Regions from separate parts of the Homo sapiens genome. Here all the other regions are reported to be linked to region 5. Evidence: microRNA targets listed by miRTarBase, many of them from high-throughput screens and not tested one by one. Region 5 holds a microRNA gene; each other region holds the end of a gene's coding sequence.

Region 1 (4,693 bases), not on the chromosome of region 5:
TTCTTAATAAACTCCCTTTCATGTATACATATATCCTATTAGTTCTGTCCATCTACAGAACCCTAATACAGATGGTTTCTGGCAGCTGACATAACCAAGAGCATGGGCAGAAATAGGAAAATAGACAAATATAGAAAATCTCTTTTTAAATCTGACTTACCAGAAGTCTGTCAATCATATCTTTTCCAGGAAACGACTTTTGGTATTGGATATTGTCCCCACTTCTTTGGTGTGAGTCTCCATTGATTGTATCCTTATCTTTCCTATTTCCAATCTTTCTTGTGTGTGTGGTGGGGGCGGGGATGTTACTCTGCTGCTTGTGCTTTTTATCTGCATTCTTAGCTCTTTAGCTTTCAATAGTACTTTCGTCCTGATAAATGTATTTGAAGTTATAAATTACCCTTACACAGTGTTTTATCTAGGTCCTACAAATTCTGACATGTAGTATTTTCACTGTAGTTTAAGTATTTTGTTAAGTATTATTCTTCCCATTCGACAGGTAAGGAAACCGGGAAATGCTAAGATATTAAGTAACAGTTGTAGTTCAAACTCATTACGTTGTATTAACTAAAGAATCATATCTTGATAACTACAGTAATATTCTTTCTGATAACACTTAAGGTGGAACTGAATTTGGGGACATAATTTCTTGATGAAACAGCAAGATTAATAATAGTTTAATTTATTCTAAAATGTCTTTTCAAGTCCCTGAGACTAATCACTAGCCACAGGAATACTTACACCCCGTTTATCTTTCACAAGTAACTAAATAGAATGCTGTAAGCTACACATAAGGAGATGAGATCATCTGAGTCAGTTTCACAATAGAGATGGATTCCAGCTGCTAGATAAGCTCATTTTGACTTGTTTTGTTGCAAATGACAAAAGCCAATGTAAACTGCAAAGGCCAAAAGACAGAAATTTATTGACTCACGTATCAAGAATGGCAGGATTGCCACTGGGCTTCAGGGACCAGGGTAACGCCATTAGCAATATCCGTTATCAGCCTTATTCTTTCCCACTGAGCCTGGCTGAACTACAGCTGCCAGCATTTCCTGGGCTTGCATTTTCCCAGCTTCGTCACATCTTAATTTCAAGCTGAAAAATCCTGGGAAGAGACATACTTCACTGAAGTCATTTCTCTATTCTACTCATTGTAGCCAGGCAAAATGAGATTAGGATTAGCTCAGCCAGAGTTAGGTGACTATCCTTGCCTAATCATTCTGCATATAGATGATTTATATTTGGACCCTGTGTCAGACTGGAGAGAGGAGGGTCATTTCCCAAAAAAGGGGAGTAACAGTCCAGAAGAATTAGGATTCCACAAAAATATCTTACGGATACATCTCTCTCTATATTTATCTATATTAATATATATCTTGTAGGTATATATAGTCATGTTTGGCTTAATGACAAGGATATATTCTGAGAAAAGCGTCATTAGGCAATTTCATCATTGTGTGAACATCAGAGTATACTTACACAAACCTAGATGGTATAGCCTACTACACACCTAGGCTATATGGTATAGCTTATTGCTCCTAGACTATAAACCTGTACTGCATGTTACTGTACTGAATATTGCAGGCAACTGTAACACAATGGTAAATATTTGTGTATCTAAACAGAGAAAAAATAAAGTAAAAAATGCAGCAGTATAATCTTACGGGGGGATTCACTATCATAAGTACAGTTCGTTGTGACCAAAACGTTGTTATATGGCACATGACTGTCTAGGGTGTACATATCTCTATCTAGGGTCTACTGTTAATAACTTTCCTAGTCATTAGACACAAACAATCTGGAGGGAGTTACTCACATTGGTGGTGCGTGGGAATACAGAGTGGTGGAGAGAAGATAAATTGATTCTGTTACTTGTGTACATCTTTGCAATGAAAGGGCTCTTTGGAGTCAAAGGGTGAAGAGTTTAAGCGTGCAGGAAGGAAGGCAGGGAGTGAAAATAGACTGATGGCAACCACCACTCTGGTAGGAATACTTAAGCCATGGGATTGATATTTAGATACACACACACACACACACATTTCAGATAATTTAAATTGGAGCAGTATTAGTCATTTCCAACCAAAGAGTTTTGAATAGTAAAAGAAATGCGAGACTTTTAGAAACCTTGTTTAGTCGGTAACAACATTCAGTAGATAATTAAGGGAACACACTGCACAAATTCATTTCCCACTTAGCCTGAATAAGCAGTTTGACTACTTAATGGTTTCTTATTGTAAGTTTTCCTATGGCCAGGGAAAACAGCTTTGTAAGTAGTCCATCTTTCTAAAACTGAGGTAACTTTCTAAACATTAAAAGTCTTTAGTAACATAGGGGAAAAATTAAGGCTTAATTACTTAGAAAACAAAATATCACAATTACAGGAGCACATTTAATTACAAAAATTATAAAATTATATTAACTATATGTAGTTTTTAATATCTAGTATCAAAATACCTTTTCTACTTTGGTAACTAAATTTTTGAGATTAAGAACAAACTAGTTCAATCATTCTCACATACAAAAATTTCATGTTTATATTTATTAAAAACAAAATAATGCAAGTTCTGTTAAAGTAACAATATATACACCAAGATAAATATTTGGAATTGTGGAAACAGAAATAGTAAAAATTTCAAATTTTTTCTCAATATCTTAATGACTTAAATAATTTAGCTTTTTTCAGGCATTTTTTGTTAAAAATAAACTTACTTAATTTTCAACTTAGGTCAATGTGCTTTTTTGCTTTTTTTAAAGACAAAAATTAGTAAAAATGGCAGGTACTAGGTTTGCACTAGCTAAAAAAATAATGTTTACAGTTGTCTAGATGTAACAATTTTAAAAACATACAAATTCAGTATGTAGTATGAAAATACATTAAAAAAACACATAAGGAACTATGCCCCATAAAAAATATAAATGCAACTTCTATTAATTATATGAATATCAAAAATTAAATATTCTGATTTAAAAGTAGCTTCTATAAAAGTCGGAGTAGTAGGCATTATTTGCTTTCCTAAATGTATAAATAAGAAGTATTTCTAGCTCAACTAAACAGAAATATCAGTATTTCTTAGCAAAAAATGTAGTACATACATGAAAAGGCAAGCATTGTCCTGTATTCAAGTTTTTGAGTTTAAATTCCATTAAAATGTTTCCTACAACTTGAAAGAACTACACACACAAAAGTAAAAAGATGAGGTAAACATCTTATACTCTGAAGAAAGTACTTAATACTCAGATATTCCCAATTAATCTGTATCTTAATACTCAGACATTCTAAAACAATGCTTTAAAAGGTCTTCCATAATGAGGATGATTGTGATAAATATCTGAACTACATAATGAACAGCAGGTTTCTCAGTCTTCTGAGTAGACAGTGATGCTCCTTCTTGTTATTACAAAACAATCATGATTAAGTTTTGCCAACAATATCGCTCCAGTGTGGGTTTACATGAGGCACCATGCTACAGTAAGAGCAGCTACGATGCCATTCAAAATCGCCATGCTATAGCCCATGTGGAAAGAATGTCCAGTCAGTTTCCTAGAAAAAAAGAAAAACACAAATCAAAAAAGAAAAATGTAACGTGGTATAACAAAGACACCAAAAGTTTTCATCGAAAATACTTATGACCTTGGAGTGTATTTCCCAAATGTTCACATATGAATACAAAACTTAAAGAATATTGGACATCTGCAGGATAAATAGTGGATAGATCTTATTAAGTCCTGTGTCAAAACTGTACTGGTTAACAATTACAGTTGTTTCAAATCATTACTGATGAGTAATGCTGAGTTTCATCCCTATTATTTCTTTACTGTGTTTCATTGTCACTGTGTGTAGCCATAACCTAATTCTAAGGTATAAGTTTTGTTATTTTACAAACAGTTCTTTCATTAATTAGCGGTGTGTTTCCATGCTGTCTGTTCTTACTTTGATTTGACTTAAAATACATATTATTTCAAGTATTTGTTCTGTTTGCACCACTTTTAGGTTATATGAAGGAACTCCCTATGTCTTTCATAGATATTTCAGCTATCATTCTAATAGGTTACTTAATTGAAGTGGTTTTCAATGAGTTCTTAAGAATCAGCAAAGACACATCTCTTTTATGATTGCTAGGAGTGCCAACTAGTTTAATAACTCTTATGTGCATGAATATTCCCTGACATTTGTTTCCTTTATCTTGTAACAATCTTACAACAGTTTTTCCCACTAACTGTATTGCAATAATACTATTTGCTTATCCTAGTAAGAATCAGACATATTAAAAAGAAAAGAAGGTAGTATCCAACTGAGACTCTCTAGAAGGCAGAACAGAATACTCTCCTTTCTGGAGCAAAACAAATTGAGGACACACAGGAAGGTGCACTAGCAGAAGTAAAAGCCAAAAGACAAAAGCAGTAAGGGCCCTGGACTGAGACGGTCATAAATACCCATATCCTCTCCTCCTTTCCTAAGGAGTAGCCAAAGCCAGAGAAGCACTTAGCTGTGAACTAACACTTGAAGAGCACCTCATAGTGATTCCAGTCGCACAATATCTGTGGCAGAGATTGAAGAAGGTACATTCTTCAAAGAAGAGCCCTTTGCATTCATCTGAAGCTACATAGACCCTGATGCTTCCTGATGGTTCCCTGCTCTGTTCCAAGGGAGTTATTATTTACTTTCGACTCAACCTTTCTTTACCCAACT
Region 2 (4,693 bases), not on the chromosome of region 5:
CCATCAGGACAGCCCAGGACCCGGCAGCCTAGGGCGTGAGGTCATGCAAAGCTCCTAGCAAAACAGTGATTTGTTTCCAGTTCTCTGGCTAGAAACGGAAGACCCAGACATTAACCTTGGCTAGGTGATGAAACCACGAACACTTTTAACTCATCCTGGATTTTTTTTTTTTAAGCCATGGTATGAGACAGTACATTTAGAGCTACCTGAAGCAAGTGGCTTCTACATCAGGCTTGTGTTGGGGTCTGGTCGTCGAAGGAGTGGCACTCTAGACTGAGCTTGCTTCCTGGACAGCTGCGCTCTGACCAGGGGCTGGAGTGGCATCTGGGAGCACCTTGCTGTGCTGGGGCTTGGATGTGGCTGGAGGGTGGGGCACAGCTAGGCCCACCAGTCCTCGTTCCCAGGCATTATGTTAAGCACTGCCCACCCCAGTTAATCGTCACAAGCACCTGGGGTTGGGTATTACATGACCCTCCCCAGTTAAGAGATGAGAAGACTGAGGCACAGGCTCTGCCCCAGACTGTTCCCTTGCTGCCCCAACACCGCCAAGGAAACTGCTCAAAGCTCTCCAGCATCAAGGCATCAAGTGATTGGAATGGACCTCAGCCAAGTGATTGGAATGGACCTCAGCCAAGTGTCTCCCACCTTGGACCCTTATAATATCCTCTACAAGGAGCCCTCGTGCCCGCCTCTTGCCCTACACCCAACACCTAGAGGCCTACACCACTATTCCATTTGCTTGGCACAGTCCTGCTTCCCTTGGGTCCTGCAGTCACAGCTGGAAGGGGTAGGGGAGTCCCCTCAGGACGTAAGTCGGGGAAGGACCAGCAGGGTGCGAGTGGCACAGCTAGGCTGGAAGCAGCCCTGCACGCAGACCAGAGCCCTCCCCAGCCCACATGTGTCATCTGGTGATAGGAAGTGAGCCCTGGCTTTGGCTCTTGCGGGTGAGAGGGTTAAGATGCCCTGGCCTCTCACCTGCACAAGGCGGGGCAAGTTTCCTCCCCACTTGTGCAGCCACAAAGAGGTGCAAGGGAGGTAGAGAACACACATTTCTGGCCGGGTGCGGTGGCCCATGCCTGTAATCCCAGCACTTTGGGAGGCCAAGGCAGGCAGATCACAAGGTCAAGAGATCAAGACCATCCTGGCCAACATGGTGAAAATCCATCTCTACTAAAAATACAAAAATTAGCCGAGCGTGGTAGCGCGCACTTGTAGTCCCAGCTACTCGGGAGGCTGAGGCAGAAGAATTGCTTTAACCCGGGAGGCAGAGGTTGCAGTGAGCCGAGATCGCACCACTGCACTCCAGCCTGGGCGACAGAGTGATACTCACTCTCAAAAGAAAAAAAACACAGGTTTCTAAAAAATGATGAGCATGGCTGAAGGGCTGTCAACAGCCCACTAATTACAGAAAGTATGGTGCAGGGCTCAGCAGTTCAGCCTTGCGGGAAGAAACATCCCAAACTGGCTGGTTCCCATTACTAAAGCAACACCAAGCTTTTCATCTTTTCCTTCCACTTACCTTACTTGTCACGGACAGAAAGTCTGTGTCCCCTTCAACTTGTATGCTGAAATCCTAACCCCCAAGGCACTGCTAACAGGAGATGGGGTCTTTGGGAAGTGATTCGATCATGAATGTGGGCCCCCACCCCATGGGTGGGCTTAGTTTCCTTATAAGAGACCCTAGGAGAGCATTTCCCCCCTTCCTCCACATGAGGACAGCTAGATGGGGACACCTATGAACCAGGATGTGGGCTCTCAACCAAACATGGAATCTGTGACTCACTCTTGGATTTCTAGCCTCCAAAATGGTAAGACATAAATTTCTGATGTTTATAAGCCACCTAGTCTATGGCATTTTGTTATCACAGCCCAAACAGACTGAGATGCTAATTTATTATTACTATTATTATTTTATTTTATTTTATTTTGAGACAGAGTTTCACTCTTGTTGCCTAGGCTGGAGTGCACTGGCACGATCTCAGCTCACCACAACCTCCGCCTCCCGGGTTCAAGCAATTCTCCTGCCTCAGCCTCCCAAGTAGCTGGGATTACAGGCATGTGCCACCATGCCCAGCTAATTTTTTTGAATTTTTACCAGAGATGGAGTTTCTCCACGTTGGTCAGCCTGGTCTTGAATTCCCAACCTCAGGTGATCTACCGGCCTCGGCTTCCCAAAGTGCTGGGATTATAGGCGTGAGCCACAGCGCGGGGCCAAGATGCTTATTTATTTATTTTTTTGAGACAGAGTCTTGCTCTGTCGCCAGTCTGGAGTGCAGTGGTGCAATTTCAGCTCATTGCAACCTCTACCTCCCGGGTTCAAGCAATTCTCCTGCCTCGGCCTCCCGAGTAGCTGGGACTATAGGTGCGTGCCACCACGCCCAGCTAATTTTTGTCTTTTTAGTAGAGTTGGGGTTTCATCATGTTGGTCAGGATGGTCTCGATCTCTTGACCTCGTGATCCGCCCGCCTCGGCCTCCCGATGTGCTGGGATTACAGATGCGAGCCACCACACCCGGCCAAGATGCTACTTTTTAAAGTAAACTCTACCACCTCCAATTGACCTCAAGCACTCTTGCCAAAGTGCCAGGACAAGCCACAGGACTTACAGAAAACCCTCAACAGCTGCGTATGAAAGCACCAAGACTCCCTTATCCAGCCTGAGTTATATATACATTAGAATTTTTTCCTTTTATTCTTGTTCACATCTTCGAAGCTGAGCTTCGTTTCAAAAGGAAGGATACCAGAGGCAGGAGGAGGGTCACTTGGGAGGGGAGGTGGAATCTCCCTCCTCTAGCCCCCTTGCTACCTCTTAACAGGCTTCAAAGTCAGAATACAGCCATCAGCTGAGAGCAGTTCATTTTGGCACACTGGGAGGCCGGCTGTGCACACCGGACCTCTCTAGTGGGGGATCAGGTCCTCTGCTCTCCAGTGGGGCCTGGAACAGCTCCAGTGAGATGCCCCAGCTGTGGGCTGGGGGTGCAGCACAGAGCCTCAGCTCCCCCAGGACCCTCAGCTGCCTGAAGAAAACACTCACCTGGCTGGAGGGAAAAAGGGCCTTGCCCTGAGGTATCAGGTGGGTGGCAAGTCATACTGAGCTCCCGCTCAGCAAGAAAACTAAACGCACAGAAGACAGCAGGAAAATGCCATCCTTTAACAGCCAAAAATCTGTCCTTCAGGGGCACCAGGTGACTCCAGCCCCTGGGGGACAGAACAAACACACCATACCTACCATCAGGCACCAGACGCCTCAAAACGCCTGGAGCTAGGGCCGGAAAAGGCGTTAAGTCACCTTCTCTCAGCAGAAATGTGAAGCTGGCCTTCAGCTTCTGCCCAGGATGGCAGAAACCACATTCTGTTGGTGGATTGGTTGCTGGTGATGGACAGAGCCAAAGGTCCTGGGGTTGGCCCCAAGAGCTGAAACGGTGCTTGCAGGAATGGCTGGCACTCCAAGCTGCCTGAGGCAGCCCAGCTGCACTCAGGTGACAGTGACCCAAGCTCTCTGGGCTCAGGGTTTATGGCCACCATAGCCCAAGCACATCCTGATGCCCTGGGTTTAAGTAATGTACCCTCCTTTGTTCTGGCAAAAAGCTAGAGAAAAACCACTATTCAAATCCCTGGAAGGGAGGTGGGTGCAGCTCCCCAGCATTAGAAAACATGGCAACCACCCGTTTCCACCCACCTAGAGCAGCCCCTCGGGCTCCTGTAGGCCACTGTATAGCGCATAGCCAATGTCGTCAATCTCCTCCTCACGCAAGCTGCTGAAGAGGTTCACGCTGGGGTTGAAGTGGCAGGGCAGGCTGGCCTGCTCCAGGCTGCCGATGAGCAGCTCCAGGGCTTGCAGGAAGCGCTCACCCAAGGCCTCCTCCGTCCAATCCACGTTGTCCTCCCCCAGACGCAGGACCACCTGGGTCAGGTGACCCCGGCCTAGCTGCCCCAGAGCCGAGCAACCACGGCAGACAGCACACAGCAGCAGCAGCAGCCGCCGGCGAGTCCCAGCGTCATGGTCGTCCAGGGCTCGCAGCCTAGCAGCCTCCACTGGATACAGGTCCTGCAGCCAGAGGTTCCCCGCCAGCCCCTCCAGGGGCCAGGCCAAGAGGAGGCGGTCGTCAGCATCGACCCCAGGGACTGCCACAAGCACAGCCACAGTGAGCTCCAGGCGTTCGTGCTGCACCTCGAGCAGCAGCTCCTCCGAGGCCATGCTGGGCCGGATCAGGCACCCGAGAAGGCTGCCAATGGCCGGCCAGTTGACAGAAGCAGCCAGCGCCTTGCGGAGTAGCTCCAGCAGGACGCGGGAGGAGAGGTAGCCCCCGACCAGGAAGCGGTCCCAGGGGCTGCTCCCACGGGGGCAGAACTCAAGCTGCGTCCTGCGCACGGCCCAGCAGCGAGGGTCCCTCGCCACAGTGTCCACGCCCGGCACCAGGCTCCACAGGCCCGGCTCCAGCACCAGTGGCACCAGGAGACGCACATGGTCCGCAGCCCCCGCCTGCAGCCCGTCGTAGAGCGGCCCCCCAGGCACGAATGCCCCAAAGGGCAGTTCCGGGAACTTGCTCCGAAAGTAGGCCTGCAGCTCCAGGGCGATGTCGCCAGCCAGCTGTTTGGCCAAAGCCACCTGGGCTGCTGGGATGGTCACACGGTCCCGCTCGAAGGCCAGCAGCCTCTCCTGCAGTGTCAGACACAGCGGTGCTGGGGAGCTG
Region 3 (4,635 bases), not on the chromosome of region 5:
GCCTCTCAGGGATCACCGGGATAATTTTTTTCTGAAGCTAGAAATGGGATAAGCAGAGAGAGTGCTGACCTTGCCAGCCATTTGTTCTTCCCTCGGGATAATCATATTGGGTCCTAATTGGGGCAATCCATTCTTTTCTCGATTTCTTTCCAGGATATGTGAGGACGCAGATGTCTGGTAATGAGGTAATGTCTCTTTTTCCTTGTCTTTGAGTGGCAGATCATTCTCCCGGTTCTTTGGCCAGAGGGAGATGACATGGGGGTAGGGAGGAGTAAGGTTGCTGCTGTCTGGATGGGACTGTCCCCTGAGTCTCTGGAACGGCTGTGGGGGGTGGTGAGGCTGCCTCCTGAGACCTTCATCACTGTGCCTCCAGGTCTCAAGAGCTGTTCTGCTCCCTCAGTCATGCTAAGGTCCTCACTGAAGCTTCTCTCTCTGGAGCCTGAAGTAGTGATGAGTAGTCTGGGCCCTGGGTGAGGTAAAGGACATTCATGAGGTCAATGTTCTGGGAATAACTCTCTTCCCTGATCCTTGGAGGAGCCCGAACTGATTCTGGAGCTCTGTGTTCTGAGATCATGCATCTCCCACCCATCTGCCCTTCTCCCTTCTACGTGTACATCATTAATCCCCATTGCCAAGGGCATTGTCCAGAAACTCCCCTGAGACCTTACTCCTTCCAGCCCCAAATCATTTACTTTTCTGTGGTCCAGCCCTACTCCTATAAGTCATGATCTCCAAAGCTTTCTGTCTTCCAACTGCAGTCTCCACAGTCTTCAGAAGACAAATGCTCAGGTAGTCACTGTTTCCTTTTCACTGTTTTTAAAAACCTTTTATTGTCAAATAAAATGGAGATACAAAAAATGTACATTTTAGTGAATTATTTAAGAAAAACCCCTGTAATCAAGTCAAGGAACAGGACTTTGCCAGCTCCAGCGGAAGTCTCTGTACGTCAGGCCAATCAAAGCCTCTCCTTCCCCTCGAAAGTGACCATATCCTGATTTTATTGTAACCTCTTTCATGTCTTTGTAGTCTAGTCCCCCAGGTATGTGTTCCTGGACGCCACAGCTTAGTTGTCTTTTACGTCTCTCATACTTCACTGGTTTCTCCCCCATCAGCCTTTTTTTCCCCCTTATGATTAATCTGTTGAAAAGCTCAATCCATTTGACCTGTAGAGTTTCCCACACTCTGGATTTTGCTGGCTGCGTACACATGGTGCAGTGTAACACATCCTCTGCCTTCTGTGCCTCCCGCAAATTGGCATCTGGATGCAGAGGCTGGATCAGACTCTGGTTCAATCTTTTCCTTTGGAAAATCTATACGTGGTGTTGTGGCCTTTCACCATGAGAGACATAATTTCCAGCTGTTTCTTTTTGTGATGTTAGCAACCATTGATACTAATTGCTTAGGTCTGTTAATTTATTGGGGATTGCTAAATGGTGGTATTCTGTCATTTTTTCTTCATTTATATGCTTTATTAATGCTACAAAGAGACAGTTCCCTTCATTTACTAGTGAAGAGACACTTCCCTCCACTTACTAGTGGGCTACTTAGTGGTACAGTGGAAAGGCAGGATCAGTGTTTGACTCTCCTTTTATTTACCAGTTTTCAAGTTAGCAAATTGGTTTCCTACTATTAATAAAACCTACAGATGGCCAATCAGGTTTTACTTTTCATTCTTTAAATAATTATAAACAGAAGGATTTAAATGTTTGATAGGTTTTACTCTATTGCAATTTTTATGCTTGTTAAAGCTTATATCCTACATTTTTGGTGAGTGAAAACTTCTTCAAGTGGCTAAAAATGAAACTGAGTTCTTTTGACGCAAATTTCTTTTGATAATTTCTTTGTTATCTGGGATGACAACATGTTTCTGGTTCATCTTGTTCATTTCTTGGCCAGACCTGGAGGTAGCCATTTTTCCAGAAATCCCTGGTTTAGTTTAGTGGGAAATGACATTTAAGACTATAATCCAGCGTTAGGGTGTTTTGTCCCACTGAACCCGCTGCTGGAGTCACCTCAAAAGTGGCGTCAAGGGAGTTACCACAAGGAAGTTCCTGAAACCATTCTGAGATGGTGTGGGTTAGGATTCAAAGAAAGAAGCACTAAATGCCAGGGTGATCAGTCCAAAACATTTGTTTAGGGAATTTACCTACAGAGGGCTTCAGGAGTCCTTGCAGACAGCAAGAGAAAAGGGATGTTCTGCCTAGGTATGTCTGCAGCGAGGGGGTCAGGGTATGGAGCTTATATGAAGGTTTAAGGAACCTGGCTCAGGGCTGGGACAAAGTTTCAGTGTTTAGAGAAACAACCTAGATACGTTTATCAGTGCCTGGGAGTGTTCAAGGCCTTGGCTTGGGTTCGAGCCTGCTGGGAAAAACCTGCAGCTGGCTGGGTCACAGAGGCATTCTGTGATTTTTCGGTCAGGACATGGAAAGAAAGCAGGGAGAGGGGCAGTGGGGGAGCCTAAATAGATAGGAATGGTCATTGTGTCCAGCCTGTTCAATGGCAATAAAACATTTATACATGTATACATTTAAAAAAATCAGTCATCCAGGCACGGTGGCTCACGCCTGTAATCCCAGCACTTTGAGAGGCCGAGGCGGGCGAATCACGAGGTCAAGAGATTGAGACCATCCTGGGCAACACGGTGAAACCCCGTCTCTACTAAAAATACAAAAATTAGCTGGGTGTGGTGGCACGCGCCTGTAGTCCCAGCTACTCGGGAGGCTGAGGCAAGAGAAGCGCTTGAACTTGGGAGGTGGAGGTTACAGTGAGCCAAGATTGTACCACTGCACTGCGGCCTGGTGACAGAGCAATACTCCATCTTAAAAAAAAATCAGTCTTCTCTATATTACTTCTGCATCTCCTTTCTTTTATACCAAGAACTCTGGTTTTCAAGGACACAGGGACAGACACAATTAGAATGTCCATACTTATTTGCTTTTCCTGAGTTAACATAGACAGCAGTCTAAGGATAATAACACTCATACACAACCACCAAAATGGCTACTGAAAACGGTTGAAATTCTTTTTACCTACATTCTCCCTATTACCTGTGTTCTCCCTTTTTACCTATGTTCTCCCCCGCTTTCTAGTTGAACTATGTCTATATTAGTTGATCCTGTACCATTGCATAGACTACTTGCTCCCTTGTTAGTCTTAGTTCTGTGAGTAGAGATATGTTTAATGCTCACCATCATTCCTTATGTTGATATCCCTGTCATGTGGTGGTTTTCAAGGTGTGGTCCATGGATTCCTGGGGGTCCCTGGGACCCTTCAAGGGGCCTATGAAGTCAAGCTATTTTTGTACTAATACTAAGATGTTATTTGCCTTTTTCACTGTATTATTTACATATTGGTACAGAAATCTATGGTGGTCACGTGAAACTGTTAGTGCCTGAGCACAAATCAAGGTGGTGACACCAAGCTGTACAGGTAGGTCATGTTCTTCACTGCCATAAGCTTACAGTAAAAAAAAAAAAAAAAAAAAAAGCAAAAGCCAGTGACCTTGATGAAGCAATAAAATCATTAGTTTACTAAATTTTAAACCTCAAGCACACATCTGTTTAATAGTCAGTGTAAGAACATAGGCAGCATTTCTGGTGCATACTGATGGAAAGGCAGTTGTCCTGTGGAAAAGCCATTATGTAATTGCATGAGTTGTGAGTGAAGTTAAACATTTTTTTTTTAGTGGGTCATCATTTTCCTTGAAAGAATGACTGAAAGGCACACTGTGATTATTCAGACTTGGGTATTTGGTAGAAATTTTCTCAAAAATAAACAAAATGAGCCTATCCCATCAAAGAAAATAATATTGACAGTGGAAATTGGAATTTCAAGAGAAAATTAAAATTTTGGAAAACTTACGTGTGCCACAGCTTCTCACTACTTAAAGATGTTTCTGATGAGATTGGTGGTGATATTAACAAATATGGCTTAAAAAATATTGTTTAATAAAATATGTCAACATTTTAAAAATCTGCGTAAACCCATGAATCAATAATTTACAAATAATCAATGCATGATATTGCAAAGTCATGCATAAAGATCCATTTAAAGATAGACTAGTGAATTTTAACACAACAGAATATGAAAAGTTAATATATAAGGTTTCAGATTCCACACTGCAACTAACCTTTAAGAATCTGCCATTTCTTGAGTTTTGGTGTCTTATCAAGGAAGAACAGTTACGATAGCTGAAATGGTTATGGAAACTTTCCTTCTTTTCCCAACTGTGTATAAGAGTGAGGCCAGATTTTCCTCTTGTGCTTTAGCCAAAACAACATATTGTTACAGCTTGAATGTAGAAGAATATATAACCAAGCTAGCTTTATTAAGCCAGACATTAAAGAGATTTTTACAAATGTAAAATAATTCCTTTTTTTTCACTATTTTTTTGTGCTGGAGAAGACAGCTATTTTCCATAAAAGTGTGTTGTTTATGTTAACATGTAATGGGTTTGTTATTGTTATTTAATAACAAATAAATTAATATAAATGTCACTTTACATAACCCATGTAAACTAAAGCTTCTTGGTGTTCTCAACAATTTTATGAATAAAAAGGGATCCTGATATCAAAAGAATTATAAGCTACTGATGTAGTCATCATGATTGTTTGAAACTATTTCTCCTAGGTGCCT
Region 4 (4,693 bases), not on the chromosome of region 5:
CAGTCTCAGCTGCTCAGCCCTTGGCAGCAGCCCTGTCCACAGGGCTCAGCTGCAGCCAGGTGGTACTTCTGGCCAGGGTGGCCAGGCCCCTGCAGGCCTGGAAAGGGACCTGGCTCCTGAGGATGAGACTTCTAACTCAGCCTGGATGCTGGGGGCGAGTCAGTTGTCAGTGCCACCACTAGACCTGGGGGACACAACTGCCCACAGCAGCAGTGCCCAGGCTGAGCCCAAAGCTGCTGAACAGCTGGCTACCACCACCTGCCATGCTCTGCCCCCAGCTGCTCTACTCTGTGGCATGAGGGAGGTGAGGGCTGGTGGCTGCTGCCATGCCCTACCTGCCACAGGGATCCTGGCCTTTCCCAAACTAGTGGCGTCAGTGAGCGAGTCTGGGCTGCAGGCTCAGCATGGGGTGAAGATCCACTGTAGGTTGTCTGGGGGGCTCCCTGGGCATTCCCATTGCTGTGCCCACCTTTGGGGTCCCGCTGGGTTAGTCCCAGAGCCTGGCTCTAGGACCAAAGATGTGTGGACCATGACCTCAGCCAATGACTTGGCCCCTGCAGAGGCATCCCCGCTGTCAGCCCAGGATGCTGGTGTGCAGGCGGCCCCAGTGGCGGCCTGCAAGGCTGTGGCCACCAGTCCGTCCCTGGAAGCGCCTGCAGCCCTGCATGTGTTCCCAGAGGTAACTCTGGGGTCCAGCCTGGAGGAGGTGCCGTCCCCTGTGCGGGATGTGCGATGGGATGCTGAGGGCATGACATGGGAGGTGTACGGAGCTGCGGTGGACCTGGAGGTGCTCGGTGTGGCCATCCAGAAGCACCTGGAGATGCAGTTTGAGCAGCTGCAGCGGGCGCCCGCCAGCGAGGACAGCCTGTCTGTGGAGGGCCGGAGGGGGCCACTGCGGGCTGTCATGCAGTCCCTGCGGCGCCCCAGCTGCTGCGGCTGCTCCGGCGCGGCCCCCGAGTGAGGAGCTGTGGCCCTTGGAGCTGGCCTGGGCCCACTGACTTAGTCCTAGACCTGGGCCAGGGACGGTGGGGGCTCCGTGCCCCCTGGACCCACCGGCAGCTGGGCACATCTCTCACCTGAATATTGGCTGCCTCCAGACCACAGGACTGCAGCCTGGGGCTTCCGGCCCTACACAGCTGGGCTGTTTTCTTAAGGGCTTGATTTCCAAGGGCCACATCTCTGCACCTTCCGGGCTCTGAACTTTGAGACAGGGCTTTAGCACTGTGCAGAGGGGAGATCCTGAGTTTTCTGTAAAAAATGACCTTTTGTTCACTCCACCCTCAGAACTCTGCCATGTTGCCTCGTCAGACTCTTGGTGGCTTTATTTGAAATCAGTGCTGAGAAATAGTGAATTCTCGACATGAAATGTGAGGCCCCAGTGACAGGGACTGCCCAGGTCTTTAGGGAAGGGGACTGATGTTATCAGAGGCCTCCTGTGTGCCACATACTGTGCTTGTCCTGTCTTCACCTCTTCATCCTGGCAAGCCTTCATTTGGCAAGGCTGTAGCCGATGTGCCCCACGCTGGACAGCTTGAAGAGGTGGGACTGAGATCCAAAGCCAGGGCCAGCTGAGCCGTGGGTGTTGCCCTGTAGCATGTGCCCGGTCCAGTCAGTGCAGTCATGTATGAGGAGAATTTACTGAGCTCATACTCTGTGCTGGGTTCTGTGGATTCTGTGGTGAATGAGACAGAGGCTGCCCCTGCCCTGGCTGAGCTCATGGTGTGGGTTGGGGATGGCAGGGGAGGATGCTGACCATTACGGAGGGCTGCCAGGCTTCCAGGGTCATTGTGTCAGAGGCTGGCCTGAGGAAGGGGAGAATGGGTGGCCACCTGCCCTAATCTCAGTTACAAAGCCTAAAATTGCACTATTTTCACCTCATTCTGTCGGCTGAAGGATTTCTCCCCAGCTGGTGCAGTTTGTGGAAGGAGGGAGGGCAGGAATGGAGGGGGACAGGGCAGGAGTTTGCCCTGGCCCTGGGGTAGGGGCTGTGAGGCTGTGGGGGCTCGCTTGCCCACATGACCTGACCTAGGCTAGGCAGTGGGGGCCAGGGGCCTTGGAGAGACAGAAACATGGGCTTTGGCACAGTCTGACTTCATTGCCCAAAGATTTCTCGAGGCCTGTGAAGAATGGGAGTGGGCTTGTGTTCTTGTCCTGGGTCTTTGTCTTGAAGATCCTAAGATCCCGTGACACAGCCCCCCAATCCACCCGTGTGAGGGACCAGAGGGCTAGTGTGGGGTCATGGCCCACGACCTGGCCTGTTTCTGGAGCCTCTTCTGCACCTAGGAGCCCAGGACCCCCACAGTGGTGGCTTACTTTTCCCCATCCTCAAGGACCTGGTACTCATTGAGGTGGAAATGACTCATGCAACAGTTGGTGAATTTGTAAAGCAGGAGTGGCATTTCAACAGGCCACAAGGACAAAGTGACAAAGGCGTGCGTCAGGTCAGATGCCTCCTGAAGCCCAACGATGGACCATTCTCACCCGTAAACATGCCTTTCCCATATGCATAGGTGCACCCCTTGGGATTCTGGGGCTGTCAGTCCCTTTGTGTATGGTGCCAGGGCAGGCAGCTCACGTTCTGGGGAGTGACACATGGGTATATGCCATCTTCATGCCTGGCTCCCCATGGAGTCTCCAGGAACCCCAGCCTGTTAGGGCCACATGAGAGAGAACAAATGGCTGTGGGTGCATGGGGAGGGACCTTTCACACAGGGCCATAGCTAAGTAGGGTCTTGAGGATGCAGGGGTTAGACAGGTGGGTGGAGAGAGGGCAGGACCTGCCTGGCAGATGGAACAGCCTGGTCAGATACTTGGATGTGCCTGTCCTGCCTGGGCCATAATGAGTTTCTGCAGTGGCGGCTCATTTGGAGCGTTTGTTGGGTTGGGAGGTGACCAGGGGTCCCCATTGTGAAGATCCTGATGTAAATGAGGAAAGGAACTTTAAGGGAACTGTGGAAGGGGTTCTGAGGTGGGACCAGATTTCAGTTTAGAAATATCCATTTGGCTTCCAGTGGAGATGTGCCAGGTGACACCAAGGAGGGGCCTGTTTAGGGGCAATGGAGTGGGCAGCTGGGGGCTGGGTTCATACACGTGCACACACACGCATACACAGGCACACATGTGTGCAATGGATTTGGGGAGGAGGCATTTCAGGATGCTGAGGTTTCCAGTTTGAGCAAGAGGAGGGTGAGGCCACTACCTGGGTCAAGGTGAATGGCATGTTCAGCAGGTGCAGAAAGGGCCACCTGCCACAGGGTTTGGCTGGGACCAGTGAAACCTACTTCATGAAGAGACTTTCTTCTGTGTCACGTGCAGATTCTTATGCATTCACGCTGGCTGGGTGCCACTCTGTGCTACCTCCATGCTGCCCTGGCTTGCCAGGATGGCAGGCCGGGCTGGGCTCAGCCAAGCTCCCACTCACCTCATCGTCACTGAGATGAGTATTTGCAGAGCGGTGCTGAAATCCAACACCTGTGTCTTGGCTGGGGCCCCAGATGATTCTCCTGGCTAAACCACGATCCTTGTCTCCCTAGCCCAGTTGCACAGCTGCTGCTGACAGGTCTACCTGAAGTGACTGCAGCCTCATTTCTGATTGGAACTGGAGACCCCTCCCAACCCCCTTTGCTGTGCCCTCTCCTGGAACAGCCCTGATGCCTGCAGTGGTTTAGGGCCCCAGAGCATGGCCAGCGGTTTAGTTTACAGATCTCCTCCCCTTGGACTCTAGATTTCTGGCCAGACTTTCTGGGTCCCTTTCAGGCCCTGCTCTGGGAGGTGTTGGAGTTCACTGTTGATGTGTTTGTTTGGCTTTGAATTCAAAACAGATACAAATTTGGAGGTGAGAGCTTTGCCAGACCCCAGCAGGGATGGGGCATCGGTCCTGACTGGTCTTGTTTATTTTGTCCTGGTAAATTCTGTTCTTTGGAGCATAAACCCTGGAGTCCTAGAGCCCCTTGCCTCAGCAGGAATCCCCCCTCTGTCTGCTCCAGGGGCTCCCTGCTTCTGCCCACCTGCTCTCCTTCCATGGCATTCAGGACCCCCGACAGCTGAAGCCTCTCTTCATATAGCTTGTCCCCTCTGGGCCTGCCTGTCTTGTGTCCAGGACACAAGACACGCATCCCTTGTCTGGCCCCAGGCTGCCATCACTGTCACAAGAAACTCATAGAGTAGAGCTGGTCTGAGGTCACAGTGCTGGTGGTGGTGGAAAAGCAGGGATGGCCTGTTCCACTGTGATCTTACCTCCTGTGTCACCTGGATTGGGTCTCTGTCCCCTTAGACATGCTAGATCCTAACTTTACAAGGGCTGAAGGGGTCTTCTACACGCAGGTCCCAACACTTTGGGCTGGGGTTGGCCACCGTAGCTTAGTGGGCTAAAGCTGGAGTTTGAATCTGGATATATAGGATCCACACCTATAGCCATGTGATCTTGGGCAAGTTACAAGCCTTGATCATCTTCCTCATCTGTAAGATGGGGATGACAATGGTGCCTCCTTCACATGCTTGGTGTGGAGATTAAATAGAATAACCCAAGTAGTGCCTGGCACTGAGTTAGTGCTCAGCACACAGGCTGGTAGTGTTGGGCACCCCTCTCATAGCCACATTCAGGGGCCACCTCTTACCCTGCCAGCTTGGCTGTGATCACAGCCCACATCCCACTTCCTTAAAAGTCCCTTGTTCAGAGCCTCTTTCCAGGTTC
Region 5 (4,693 bases):
CTCTTGTCCATAGGCCAGTAGAGCACCCAAGCCCAGAGCAATGGGTAAGGGGGTCTGACTTCAACCTGGGGCAGCCGCTCCTTGGAAGGAACCAGGCAGCAACTGTGATTCCAGCATCCCAGCCCAGCCCAGATGCACGGTGGCTGAAAACCACGCCTCAAGCTCCGGGGGAACTCCCTGGCTATTCTTGGAAACACAGAGACTCCTGGCTCCCTGTCAGAGCTGCTCCCCACTCTAAAAAGCCCAGGAGTCACTGCTACAATATTTTTCCTTCTGAAGGAGGTGGCATCTCAGTAATTGCAACGTGATGCTCTCTTGACAGCAGTATTAATCACCTGTCTTCATCTCAGCCCCAGCCATGAGAGAGGAACAGGAGGAAGACAGAGCCAGAGGGCCTGGTGTTGTTCACTGTCCTCATCCAAGGGCACGGGTACAGCAGTCTATTCTGTCTCTTCCTCAAGCTCATTGTCACTTCCGAGAGGGGACTGGGGTCAGGCCTCATTCGGGTTCCCTAGAGTGGAAAGGATTGGTAAGGAGCTGGGTAGCTCTCCTTGGCCACCTCTAAAGGAGCTGCACCACACTGGGCCTGCGAAGAGGAGACCAGGCCCACAGACCCAGGCAGGATGGAGGAGATGGGAGGGGTCAGCAGGGGGCCAAATTCAAGAGTTTCTTCTCAACCCTACCTTTAGCCTGCCTTCCTGACCATCCTGCACATGCCCACCAAGTCCACCTCCCAAAGCCATGGCTTCAGGCTCATGTCACCGCCTCGCTCAAAATATCTTCTATGACTCCCCTGAAGGGAAAAGTCCAGATTCTTTAGCTCTCTGTCTTTGATCTTCCCACATTACCTGCTGGCCCCTCCTGTGGACAGGCTAGACTGCAGCTGGCGTTGATCTAGTCTGTGACTTTTGTACCCCTCGCTTCCCCTCATCCTCCTTTGAATGCTGCCATTTCTCCACCTGCCTCCCCATTCCCAACTGTCCAAATCCTTCCAACTCTTCAAAGGGAAAAGCCCACCTCCTAGAATAGCCTTCCCTGAACCCTCTGAGCTCATCAAGACTTCTTCCTGCTGTGCTCCCATAGAGTCTGATATGGGAGGCTCTGCCAAGGTAATATTGTAAAGTTGAGGCATGTCCCAGACCCCTGGGGGAGGAGGGAAACTGAGATGCCCTGGGAAATTGGGCAGGTGAGACAGGAAGGCCTTGGCATTCATGACGTTTGGACATGTCAAGCACCTGTGCTACACAAGTGAGTTGGGAACTGTAGGCGTCCTTCCAACATGAGCAGATCATGTGAGCCAAGGGCAGGCTTGGAAAAGCATAATGCTGCTTCCCCCTGAGCACATGCCATCATAGGTGCACAGTAAAACTTCTAGATGAATAAATGCTGGGCTAGCAGAGTGACGGCCATAACACGGAGCTGCTCCCACCAAGACGGTGTCAGCCATGGGAGGACTGTTAGCCAGTTAAGCTGTGATTTTAAGCTGGAGTAACAGTTGAAGAGAGTGCAGAAATGGTCTGAATACCTAGCAAGTGGATATACTCAGACAAGCCGGATGGGTCTTCCAAGAATTGGAGCCAGAGAGAGACTACCAGAGAAGCGAAAATTCACCCCAAAGTCAGAGCAAAATGGCTGAGAGCCAAGAAAGAAATCAGGGGGCGGTGTTTAGTGAGCAGTTGTGGGTAGAACTGATTGCTCCCTGAGCTACCGTTCAGATTAGCACCAGCCCTGCTGTTCCACTTGTCTCGCTGTGCAGTTCATATCTCTTCCATTTTGTATGCACTTATTCCCAGCATCCAGAGCTGCACCTGCCACCCTCCACGAATGCAATGTTCACAAGTGAAGTAGTGGGAGGTGGCTGGTAAACTGGAGAGAATGGGATCCTTAGTCTATTGTTGCCATTTGAGAATGGAAACAATATTTCAAAAGAAGACAGAAATTGGAACTTTTATTTGAAATCTCCCTATCATGAAATCCCGGCAACTAACTCATCACACTAGCTGAGCCAAAGCACTTCCAGCTTGCATCCTCTACTCACACCATCTAAAACACCAATGCCAAACAAGCAACCAGAGCTAACAACATTGTTGTGCTTTTTGAAGGCCTCGAAACAGCCCTCTGACCAAGCAGGGCAGGGTTATTACTCCCTCTTTAGGAGTTGAAGAAGCTGGCCCAGAGAGGCTTCTCTATTTGCACAAGATTACTCAGCTAGTTAGTAGCAAAGGCAGGATCAGAACTCACATCTCAACATTCTGCCTCAAAGGCTCCTCTCCCAAACCCCACCTTGTCTCCACAGCCTAATGGACAGCAGAGCCAAAGCAGTTAATAAAATAGTCTGAGACCAACAGTGTTGGCTAGGTGATCATGGTATCCTTAGCAGAGAAATAGATAGGCAGTCTACTACATTCTCACTCAATCTCTTTAAGTAGAAGAGTTCTATATCAAGTGATCAGAAGTCTAACTTTCTTCACCAAAACAGAGAGTTATGGCCCCTGATTAATTCCCAGATTTGAGCCAATTGACAGATGCAGAACCCGTAAATGAAGGAGAGATTTGGTCCTCTTGAGGAAGACCCCTGCCAAAAATTTACATTGTTAATATTTCTCCCAGCTTTCTCCAAACGGACCACTCCTTACCAGGGTAACTATGCATTGGGAAAATAAAATAGACTTTTGGAGGATTACTAGATTAGGTGAGGGCTCTGACCAGGCTCTAATGACACTAATTCCTGGAGACCCAAAACATCACTGTAGCCCCCAGTCAAAGGTGGGACTTCTGGAGGTCAGGCAATCAATGGAGATTTAGCTCAGTTCCTTCTCACAGTGGGTCCAGTGGGTCTGTGAACCCACCCTGTAGTTACCTCTCTGGTTCCAGAACACATAATTGGAATAGGCATATTCAGCAACTTGCAGAATCGCCACTGCACAGGACTGGCTAGATTCTTTTAAGCTGTTAAGAATATGTATCCAAAACTTGTTAATAAGGCAGCAAGCCCACCTCAGGCTTTGATTCTCCAGGAGAATCTGTTTTGTTTGTTTACTATTTACCATCCACAAAGGGCCTAAACCTATGAGATAGATGCTAACAGTTAGAAAAGATGGTAACATGTGAGTGATTTCCATCCAGTAGAGAAGATTGTCCAAAGCCTTATGATTTTGTTGCCCTGTGAGACATTAAGTTTTGCATCTAATTTAGCAATCTTATTCCAGATTTCTTCCACGTATATATGTATATATATAATTTTTCCTGTATCCTCTTTTATTTATTATTTATTTATTTATTTTGAGATGGAATCTTGCTCTGTCACCCAGGCTGGAGTGCAGTGGCACAATCTTGGCTCACTGCTACCTCTGCTTCCGGGTTCAAGTGATTCTCCTGCCTCAGCCTCCCAAGTAACTGGGATTACAGGCACCTGCTACCACGCCCGGCTAATTTTGTATTTTTAGTAGAGATGGGGTTTTACCATGTCGGCCAGGCTGGTCTCAAACTCCTGACCTTAAGTGATCCACTGGCCTCAGCCTCCCAAAGTGCTGGGATTATAGGCCTGTATCCTCTCTTAAACCCAGCTTTGTCATTCTGCTAGTTGTCTCATTCATGAGTTAAATGAATCTTTGACATGTAATTGTTTGAGAAACAGATTTTTAATCTTTTGAAAAATATTACTTTAACAGTGTACATGACTCAAAAAAATAAACATTCACAGGAAAATTCCATAGCTGGGATGGATTAGGAAGCTGAGTGAGCTCCATTGTCCCATTTCTTCTCCCCTCCTCTGGCCCCCTCCAGCCCAACACATTCAACTCACACCCCAGCCTGCCTGCCAGCAGCCCAAGAGGCCTGCAGGAAAGCCTGCACGCTTCTTCTTTTAATGGGGATCTGTGCGTCAAGTTCGGCCGTTGTGGTTGTAGTACTTACTGCTTGCAAAGTAAGAGGTGGCTGACCCCAAATCATATTGGGACACAGGCATGTTTCAGGTAATTGAGAGCATGACAACCTCTCCAGGAGTCAGATAAAAGCCAGGAGAAAGGGCAATGTTGTCTGACAGCCAAGGGGCCGGTGGATCCTTTATGTAAATAACTTGAAAAATAAATACACAAGAAAAGCAGCAACTGTGAAGCTGTGGTTTCCAGAAGATGGGGAAAGCTTGTCTGAAGTTTAGCCCTTGCTTTCCATGTTGAGGAGCAAGGGCTAGGGCCACTGGTGTGCATGCGTGTGTGTGTGTGTGTGTGTGTGTGTGTGTGTGTGCGCGCGCGCGCGCGCGCACATTGGGGGACAGGAAATGAGACACTGCTGATTCAGATCCACCCTCACCTCCCCAGGGTCCTACTCAAACCACACATCTTCTGGAATTCTTCCCTGACCACTGACCACTGACCACTGGATATCCCAGTAGTATGGCCCTTCTCTGAACCAGTCCCCATCTTTTTTTTTTTTTTTTCTGAGATAAGGTCTTGCTTTGTTATCCAGGCTGGAGTGCAGTGGTGCAATCTCAGCTCACTGCTACCTCCTCCTCCTGGGTTCAAGCAATTCTCCTGCCTCAGCCTCTTGAGTAGCTGGGATCACAGGTTTCTGCCACCATGTCCAGCTAATTTTTGTATTTTTTTTTAGTAGAGACGGGGTTTCACCATGTTGGCCAGGCTGGTCTCAAACTCCTGAACTCAGGTGATCTACCCGCCTCGGCCTCCCAAAGCGC
Region 6 (3,000 bases), not on the chromosome of region 5:
TTCCCTGGGGCCATGTCTAACAACTGTGTTACCCCTGGGTGGGTTATCTAATCTCTTACACACTTACTTTCTTCATTTTAAAATGGAGAGGATATAGGATAATTGACTGTTAATGAGATAATGTACTTAAAGAGCTTAGCTTAGGGTCTGTCTGGCACATGGTAAATGCCCCCCTACCTGGCGGCATCAGATCATTTGTGATGTTACACACATTTTCCGTTCACCGGGCTTTTGTACGAATTAATCCTTACTTTGTAAATGTCCTGTTCATATTCTCTGGCCCTTTTTGTAGTGGGCAATAAGGATACCAACATTGTATTATCCCTTTTTTACAGAGGAAGAAACTGGGGCACAGGGTTTTTGACTTGCAAGAGGGATTTAGCTAGCATACTCCCTCAGCAAGTGGTTGAGTTGTGACTGGAGTCCAGGGGCCCGACGCCAGGGCCACCTCTCTGAAATCCCTATGACCGCAGTCCCCTCTTGCGAGCACATAGTAAACAGGGCCTGCTGATCCCCACTCACCACCCTTGGACAGACTGCGACAGTCTCAGAAGCCCAAGAGTTAGGAACACATTCGAAAATGGCACTATCTCCACCTTCTCAGCAGCCGAAAAAGAAGAAAGATATCCTTGGCCTTAAGTTGGAGAGCCCCGAGAAGGTAATGTGTGCACCCCGGGATGCCCGCCCACCTGTAAGTCTCCATTCTGGCCGCCTAGGTAGGTTGCGGCAGCCTGAACGGGGCTCTGTGAGCTTCGGGCTGGACAGCGGTTCCTCAGCAGCCACTAGAGGGCGCAATGGCGCCGTAGGCAGGCACCGAAGTCCTTGTTTGCCGAGCTCAGGCGTGACCTTGTTTGTCCTGTGTCTCAAGAGAGGAAATGTTCATCTCTTTCTCAAGGTCCTTCACCCAGTGAGCTGCTTTCTTTTCCTCTTGATGTCATCCTTTTACACAGGCAGGAAATTATGTTCACTTCTACTATCCTGTGGTCATTTAAAACCACAAACAAAGCTGATTGACCAGGAAGTCAGATAATTAAAAGAGCCATAAGTTCTTGATAAAGCCTTGTTGATTGAAGAAAGCAAAGTAGCCAAAGTATCGTGATTGACAGGGGGACCAGCAGCCTGAGAGGCTGAGCTCTCCAGATTGCAGTGGAAAGGCATAAGTTGGTTATTAAAACAAGTTGGCGAGCTGTGACCAGCATTTTGAAAAATTGAGCTAGACTTGAACAAAATAGAACAAATAACATAGAACAGAGCTTTTTCCATTCCGTGTGTGCATACTGAGTTGCTTACTAAATTATGTTTCTCACTGTACTTCAAAGTTTTAAAAATATGAAAGCCTTGACCGGGCTCGGTGGCTCATGCTTGTAATCCCAGCCTCGGTGACAAAAGCGAAACTCTGTCTCAAAAAAAAAAAAAAAAAAAAAAAAAAAGGAGGAGAAGAAGAAATTTGGAGAAATGAGGCCATCAGAGAGGATGAGAGGACGAAAATATTCATCAGGACATAAAGCTTTGGTGGCTGTCAGACTGAGAAACAGTCCATCTACTAAGTGTGGGGAAAAAAAGCTATTGTGCATGACCCTCATGTTTCTCTATAGCCTCAATCACAGGTTGGGTTTTGCCCAACTTTTCAGTGGACCACACCACGAAGGTAGTGGATTTAAGGTGAAAAATATTTGAATGTTGACAAGCTAATTGTCAGATGATTTTAGCAGAAATCAGTTTTCATTATTTAAACTGATAAGAAAATGTTTGTGATTTTGACAGGCATGGTAAACAAACAAAATTGTGATTTATGTTGCTCAAATGAGAATAAAATTTATTTCACAAATTACTGATATTTTTAACATTTACAGTTTAATTGTTCATTGTGGAAAAACAGAGAAAAGGGCATACGCTGTCCAAGCACAGGCTTCCATGTGGGCTCAGCCCACCATGACATGGGGATGAATCCCAACTCTCACCCACCATGACAGGTGATCCCCCCAGCTCTCACCCACCATGACAGGTGATCCCCCAAGATCTCACCCACCATGACATGGTGATTCCCCCAGCTCTCATCCACCATGACGTGGGGATACCCCCCAGATCTCGCCCACCATGACATGGGGATGCTCCCAGCTCTCACCCACCATGATGTAGGGATACCCCCAGCTCTCACCCACTATGACCATGTGGATGACCACCCGCCCTCACCCACCATGACACAGGGATACCCCCAGATCTCACCCACCATGACATGGGGATGCTCCGAGCTCTCACCCACCATGACTTGGGGATGCCTCCCCCGACCAGCCCTCACCCTCCATGACCATGGGGATAACCCCCAGCTCTCACCCTCCATGACCACGGGGATGGCCCCAGCTCTCACCCACCATGACATGGGGATGGCCCCAGTTCTTATCCCATCCTCCTCTTCTCTACGCCTGAGCTCAACTGGGTGTCTAGAATGCTAACCCTAGCCTCATCCTGCAGCAGAAAATAGGTGTAGGAATGAGGAGACATGGAGCAAAACAAGTCATCTTCCAGCCATAGGTGTCAGTCCAGCAAGTCTTAGCCAGTCGTGAGAGTACACTTCTTTCTTCTTGAGCCTAGTTCTGGGCCTGAAATCAGGAAAGATCTATTTACTCCTTTTCTGATGTGGTGGGAGATGGGGGCTGATAAGGAAACCTGCCATGGGAATGCGAAAACCTCCACCTTGCCGTCAGTTCATCTGGTGGTATATCCCTGAGGCTTCCATTTCTCTTGGGTTATCTTTGCAAGGTGGTTATGCCAGAGGATCACAGGTGAGCAGTGTCAACTCTCACCTTTCCTATAAGAGCCCCAGAGGAAAGGTGAATTTGGATGACAAGAGCCAGGGCTCTGAGGTCCTTCTCAAGTGGAGAGCTCCTCTCCAGGGACAGCCTGGGAGATGAGGGTGGAATTGTATTAGTGAACAGCAGCATTTCTCAGAAGTTCCTGGGTGTATGGGAGGGGACATCCACACACAGAGTTCCCATCTCC
Region 7 (4,533 bases), not on the chromosome of region 5:
CTGATGAACCTTGACATAAGTGTGGGGAACAAATCTCCAATTGATGATCATAAGCAAAAAAGCTTTTGTGAAATGCATCTTTTTGGCTGGGTTTCCTTGGGAAAACAACTCTCCTTTAGCTTACTGAATGCAAACTGGTACAACAGAGCTTCTCTGAAATGCTCAAAGTACTAAGCAGTGAATCACGTCAACCAGACAGCTCTGCTCTTGGATCTCAGCTCTCAAAACTCCCACTAATGAAAAAATACTCCATAGAAAAAGATATTAATCTATAGGCTGTAAGAAAGTTCTGAATATCTCTATCTTTACTAAATTGCTCCCTGAAATGAAATGCTATTATTTTTCCTCCAATGTTTATTCATTGTAGTGTCTTTTAAAATCTTATTTTGTTCTTAACCCACCATTTCTTATTTCTATAAAAATTCTGAGCATCCTTAAAAGCTCAGTAGAAGTTCTGCCTCACCAATGAAAACAATTAACCTCTTCTTACCCTAAACATCTTCTTTGAATTTCCAGAGCCTTTTATATCATGCACCTCATTGTGAATGGCTGCCTAAAAAGCTAGCCCTTTCAAGAAAGAAACCATGGTGTGATTTTTACTCTTCCTTATGTATAACGGATGCTTGCTAGCTACTATTTACATTTACACTAATCTATTACAGAATACTATATGAAGAACAATAAACCTTTGTTAATTTAGGTAGCTTTAACTTGGAGTAAATAATATTATTTAGCCATGCAACCATTTCTTATCCTTAAAAAAAGGCTTTGGTCAACAAATTAAACAATAAGTATGTATTGAGATTCTATAATAGATCAGGAACTGTCCTAGCTATTGAGGATGCAAAGATGAATAAGATAGCCTTTCCCCAGAAAAATGAGCAATTGTGGAGCACCTTAGACTATAGAAGAATAATCCTTCTAGTAAACACCCCTTTGTGTAATCATTATGCCAATTACAATGAATGCTCACTATTTCATGAAAGAGAATTGCGTAGAGCATATTCTTCACAATTCTTTATCCAGTTTGTCTTTTAAAAAACATTTTTATTACTTCTTCAGGTACACATGGAAACATATGCCATAATTCAGATGTAACTAACTTGGATTGTTCTAATTAACCCAAATTACAAAAATGTTCTGTACTTAATATTCTAAATGATTATTGAAATTATTATTCTTACTATTGGGTGAAAATATGGAGATTTTTATGTCAAGTTTTCTGATTGGCATACTATGATTATCTATTACCCCAAACCTCAAAGGGTGTTAGATCAGTGAACAATGTTTGGTATGCTGCTAAATTAAAAAGTAATAATAATAACCGTAAGCTTCACATGTAGTTGTTTTTGTTATACCATTATGAAACCAAGGGGTGATGCAAGGTTTCCAAATAGGAGTGGTTTTCTAAGTTTTGAGGCATGTCATTCCCAGAGAGCCTACAATCCGTGGAGGTACTCAGTCAGTCATTGTCCAGCTATTTTGGCAATGATCTGATGGCTAATGGAATTAACTAGCATGCCACCCTCTGCAGTTATTTATAAAACCAGAGCAATGAATAAGGTTTTTGCTCTCCCAAACCAACCTCCATTTCCAGTGAATGGCTGTGGTGGTTGGCAACCTGAGCCCACCAAATCAAACCCTGATGAAATGGGTCAGTGAGCAACCAGTGTAACTGTCCACCAGGAAACAGTCTGGAGTAGGGGCAAGAGCAAGAGGTTTCAAGTCCTGGCTCTGCTGCTTCCCAGCCACTTAAGAATGGGCAGGTCACAAAGTTTATCTTTTACTTCTTCATTTGCAAAACAATACTTCCTGGCCTGTCCACCTTTCATGGTTATTGTGAGGCTCCAGTGAGATAATATATGAAAGTTCTTGTAAATGGCATAGTCCTAGCCTCTTTATTAGTCTAAGTTGTCAGTTGGTGCATGACAACTCAAAACCACTCTCCCCATGCTGCAGTGATGCATTCAAGGAGGATAGTACATACTTATTGTTCAATATACCAAGCAAAATCCAGAGGCACTCTCACCTCAATCCCTTAAGATATGTCTTCTTTCCTGATTGTCCAAGTGCCTCGTGGTACTGCTGAATGACAGTGCTAATTGCACAGACCCTAAGGTCAGATTGCCAGCTCCCCACTTGGTCAAATATTTAACATTTTATGAGCTCGTTACTGGATCTATAAAATGAGGATTCAAATGTTACCTATCTCACAGAATTGTGGGAGGATAAGATAATCACGTAAAACACATGATGTAGTATCAGGTGGCACACAGTAACAATGACAATTACTATTAGCCTCACACAGGTTTCTGCAGCTAATATGAAGGCAAAAATCCCATTAGAGTCAGAAGATCTGGTTTCAAGTCCTCGTTCCCTCTGTGACAGGCTGGATAATGCTACAAATTTCATTCAATCTCTCTGGAATGCAGTTACTACTTATAAAAGGATGCTAATATTCACTTCATGGGGCCTATATAAAAATCACATAGAGTAATATATATATAACTTCTATACTCACTGTAATGCACGATGAAAATGCACAAGGCTGTTATTTGATTTTTCTGTATGAACAAACATGCAGAAAACAATTGCAAAGATTTTATTTAGCGGCTTTCTGTGCTTGGCACTTAGAAACAGAGTTCCGTGCATAAGGGCAAATTTTTGTACACCTTTTCTTCATACATATTTTACATACCCTTTTATTGCCCCCTTTTTCATATTCATAATATTGGATTCCCCACTAGGCACATAAATACATTTATCTACAACACCTCAAAACCAGAAACTTTAATAATATCTGTATTATTTTACTTGGTATTATTTGCATTTCCACACCATTTAAAAATTTTAGCTTGCACCAAGCTTCACTTGCTTTCTTACCATTAAAAGATTTGAAGGGAAAGGGAAAGATGAAGGACAAAACCCAAAACTTCAAAATGCAATGTACTATTTGATAAAAATGGAGATCTAAGGGCAGGTAGAAGGGTATAGAAGACCCATCTGCAATTCCCTGGGACATGAGGGGATATTTCCTGCCACAGGGATAGCGGGCAGGCATTCTAGGTCAGGTGTCTGGATCCGGCACCTGGAGGCCAGGCCTCTATTTGTTGCCTCTGCTCTTGGTATCATCTTCCGAGATTATAAAACTATTCCTTCTTCACACCCTTTTATTTTCCTTCCCCTACCAGGCTGCATGCTGTGGAATCAGCACTTCCCACGTAGTGCACCTCTCTTCTGGATCACAGTGGTCAAAGCTGTGGGCTCAGGATGCATTCCTTGCTCTGTCCCTCTGACCAATGCCCTGACCATGCTCAGTGTGCCAGAGAGGTTTACTCCTCAGTAATGCCATGATTCTTTCCATAACCTGTAGTGGGGCGGGCGGGGTTTGGGGGGACAAACCAAAAACACGTCTCCTTGGTGAATTAAAATTCTCATCATTGCTCACACTTTCTCTGTCAGTCTTGCTCTCCACCTCGTTCCTGTTCTCTATTCTTTCTGTTTGTCTTTCTCCTGTTCAGCTTCTCTTTCTCCCTCTTTCCACGGGCACCACTGGGAATATCAATGATAGCATACAAGTGAAGAGAGCCAAAGTTCAAAAGCAATCTTTTTCCGGAAGCCAAGTCCAGTTGTACTGATGTCTTTCCACTCTCATCCATTGGGAGGGTCTCCAGGATACATGGTTCATTCCAGAAGCAGAGGAAGCTGCAGGGGAGAAAGACTGGCAGCTACTGCTGGCCCACTCCATCTAGAGTTGTACACAGACAAATTCTTGGTGAAAGCACCCATTCTGGGCCTCCCTCCACAGAGTTCACCCAGTTCAGAGTCAGTGTGCATGTATGATTGCATGTGTATGAATTGTGTATGAATATGTATGTGTGTGTGCACGTATGTATAGGTAGGTCTGTCTGTATGTGGGTGTGTATGTGTAACTTTTCATGGCTGCCACACACTAGCATCTCCCTTAACATTATGACGAAGTGATTATTCAGTCTCTTCAAAGGCCACTCTGGAACAGACAATGCTTTATAAAACTAAGGTCTGGGAAGGCAGAAGAATGGCCACTGAGTTGCGGATGATTCTATCGCAAGTATCCTTCACTGGCTTAAAGGTATCTCTTGTTCTTGGGTATATGTCTTCGGCCAGAAAAAAAAAAAAAAAAAAAACACGGTTCCTGTTTTTCAAAGACACTGGACTCCCAAAGAGGAGGATCTGACCACGGAGACTCTGGGGCCTTGATTGCCAAATGCTCCGTGGTGTTTGGACTGGCCTTTAAACCATGTGCACGGACATCTGGGAGGAGGAGCCTGGAACTGCCCCATACTGCCGGCCATCACAAGTGTTGGTTGCCTGTTGGTTATTGGGTGAAGGGCTAATCATGTGCATGCTGTGCTCCATCCCTGACGGCAGGTACTGCCTCTCTCCAAAGGCCCCGTTGGAAGGAGAAGAACAGAGTAAAGTGCTTTGAGAGGCGCTCAGTTTTTCCGGGCTTGCAGCTAGCCTAGGGGAAGTGGGGAAATTGTATCCATACAG

What was found. Region 5 holds the annotated microRNA hsa-miR-4301 (UCCCACUACUUCACUUGUGA, at 1,834-1,853, opposite strand). A microRNA usually pairs through its seed, bases 2 to 8, with sites in the 3' UTR of a target mRNA and lowers its output. Matches are read on the target gene's strand: a 7mer-m8 pairs with bases 2 to 8, a 7mer-A1 pairs with bases 2 to 7 and ends in A, and an 8mer does both.
Region 1: the mRNA of ARL6IP6 is a reported target of hsa-miR-4301. Seed matches in the 3' UTR shown: 7mer-A1 at 2,189-2,195 and 7mer-A1 at 1,017-1,023.
Region 2: the mRNA of MIEF2 is a reported target of hsa-miR-4301. The part of its 3' UTR that is shown has no 7-base or 8-base seed match.
Region 3: the mRNA of HLA-DOB is a reported target of hsa-miR-4301. The part of its 3' UTR that is shown has no 7-base or 8-base seed match.
Region 4: the mRNA of GPRIN2 is a reported target of hsa-miR-4301. Seed matches in the 3' UTR shown: 7mer-m8 at 4,361-4,367.
Region 6: the mRNA of IL1RL2 is a reported target of hsa-miR-4301. Seed matches in the 3' UTR shown: 7mer-m8 at 2,158-2,164.
Region 7: the mRNA of TBX15 is a reported target of hsa-miR-4301. Seed matches in the 3' UTR shown: 7mer-m8 at 2,740-2,746.

Annotation. Positions count from the first base shown.
Region 1 is chr2:152,758,598-152,763,290 of GRCh38, reverse strand. It overlaps ARL6IP6 (ARF like GTPase 6 interacting protein 6), which reads right to left. Exons shown (of 4, transcript NM_152522.7): 4 at 895-3,544. The coding sequence ends at 3,451. Among named protein-coding and RNA genes, the nearest start is that of ARL6IP6, 42 kb to the right of the region's middle.
Region 2 is chr17:18,263,750-18,268,442 of GRCh38, reverse strand. It overlaps MIEF2 (mitochondrial elongation factor 2), which reads right to left. Exons shown (of 4, transcript NM_139162.4): 4 at 1,891-4,693. The coding sequence ends at 3,679. Among named protein-coding and RNA genes, the nearest start is that of MIEF2, 5.4 kb to the right of the region's middle. RefSeq lists an enhancer at 547-1,140.
Region 3 is chr6:32,808,990-32,813,624 of GRCh38, reverse strand. HLA-DOB (major histocompatibility complex, class II, DO beta) reads left to right here. Exons shown (of 6, transcript NM_002120.4): 5 at 154-185; 6 at 374-862. The coding sequence ends at 409. Among named protein-coding and RNA genes, the nearest start is that of HLA-DOB, 5.7 kb to the left of the region's middle.
Region 4 is chr10:46,545,628-46,550,320 of GRCh38, reverse strand. It overlaps GPRIN2 (G protein regulated inducer of neurite outgrowth 2), which reads left to right. Exons shown (of 3, transcript NM_001385282.1): 3 at 1-4,693. The coding sequence ends at 961. Among named protein-coding and RNA genes, the nearest start is that of GPRIN2, 8.7 kb to the left of the region's middle.
Region 5 is chr11:113,448,226-113,452,918 of GRCh38, forward strand. It overlaps MIR4301 (microRNA 4301), which reads right to left and starts at 1,863; the gene lies at 1,798-1,863. The region is part of intron 1 of DRD2 (dopamine receptor D2); the gene reads right to left.
Region 6 is chr2:102,238,792-102,241,791 of GRCh38, reverse strand. IL1RL2 (interleukin 1 receptor like 2) reads right to left here. Exons shown (of 12, transcript NM_003854.4): 12 at 1,790-2,600. The coding sequence ends at 2,551. Among named protein-coding and RNA genes, the nearest start is that of IL1RL2, 53 kb to the right of the region's middle. RefSeq lists a silencer at 730-789 and enhancers at 729-1,023, 2,878-3,000.
Region 7 is chr1:118,880,460-118,884,992 of GRCh38, forward strand. It overlaps TBX15 (T-box transcription factor 15), which reads right to left. Exons shown (of 8, transcript NM_001330677.2): 8 at 2,588-4,533. The coding sequence ends at 4,273. Among named protein-coding and RNA genes, the nearest start is that of TBX15, 110 kb to the right of the region's middle.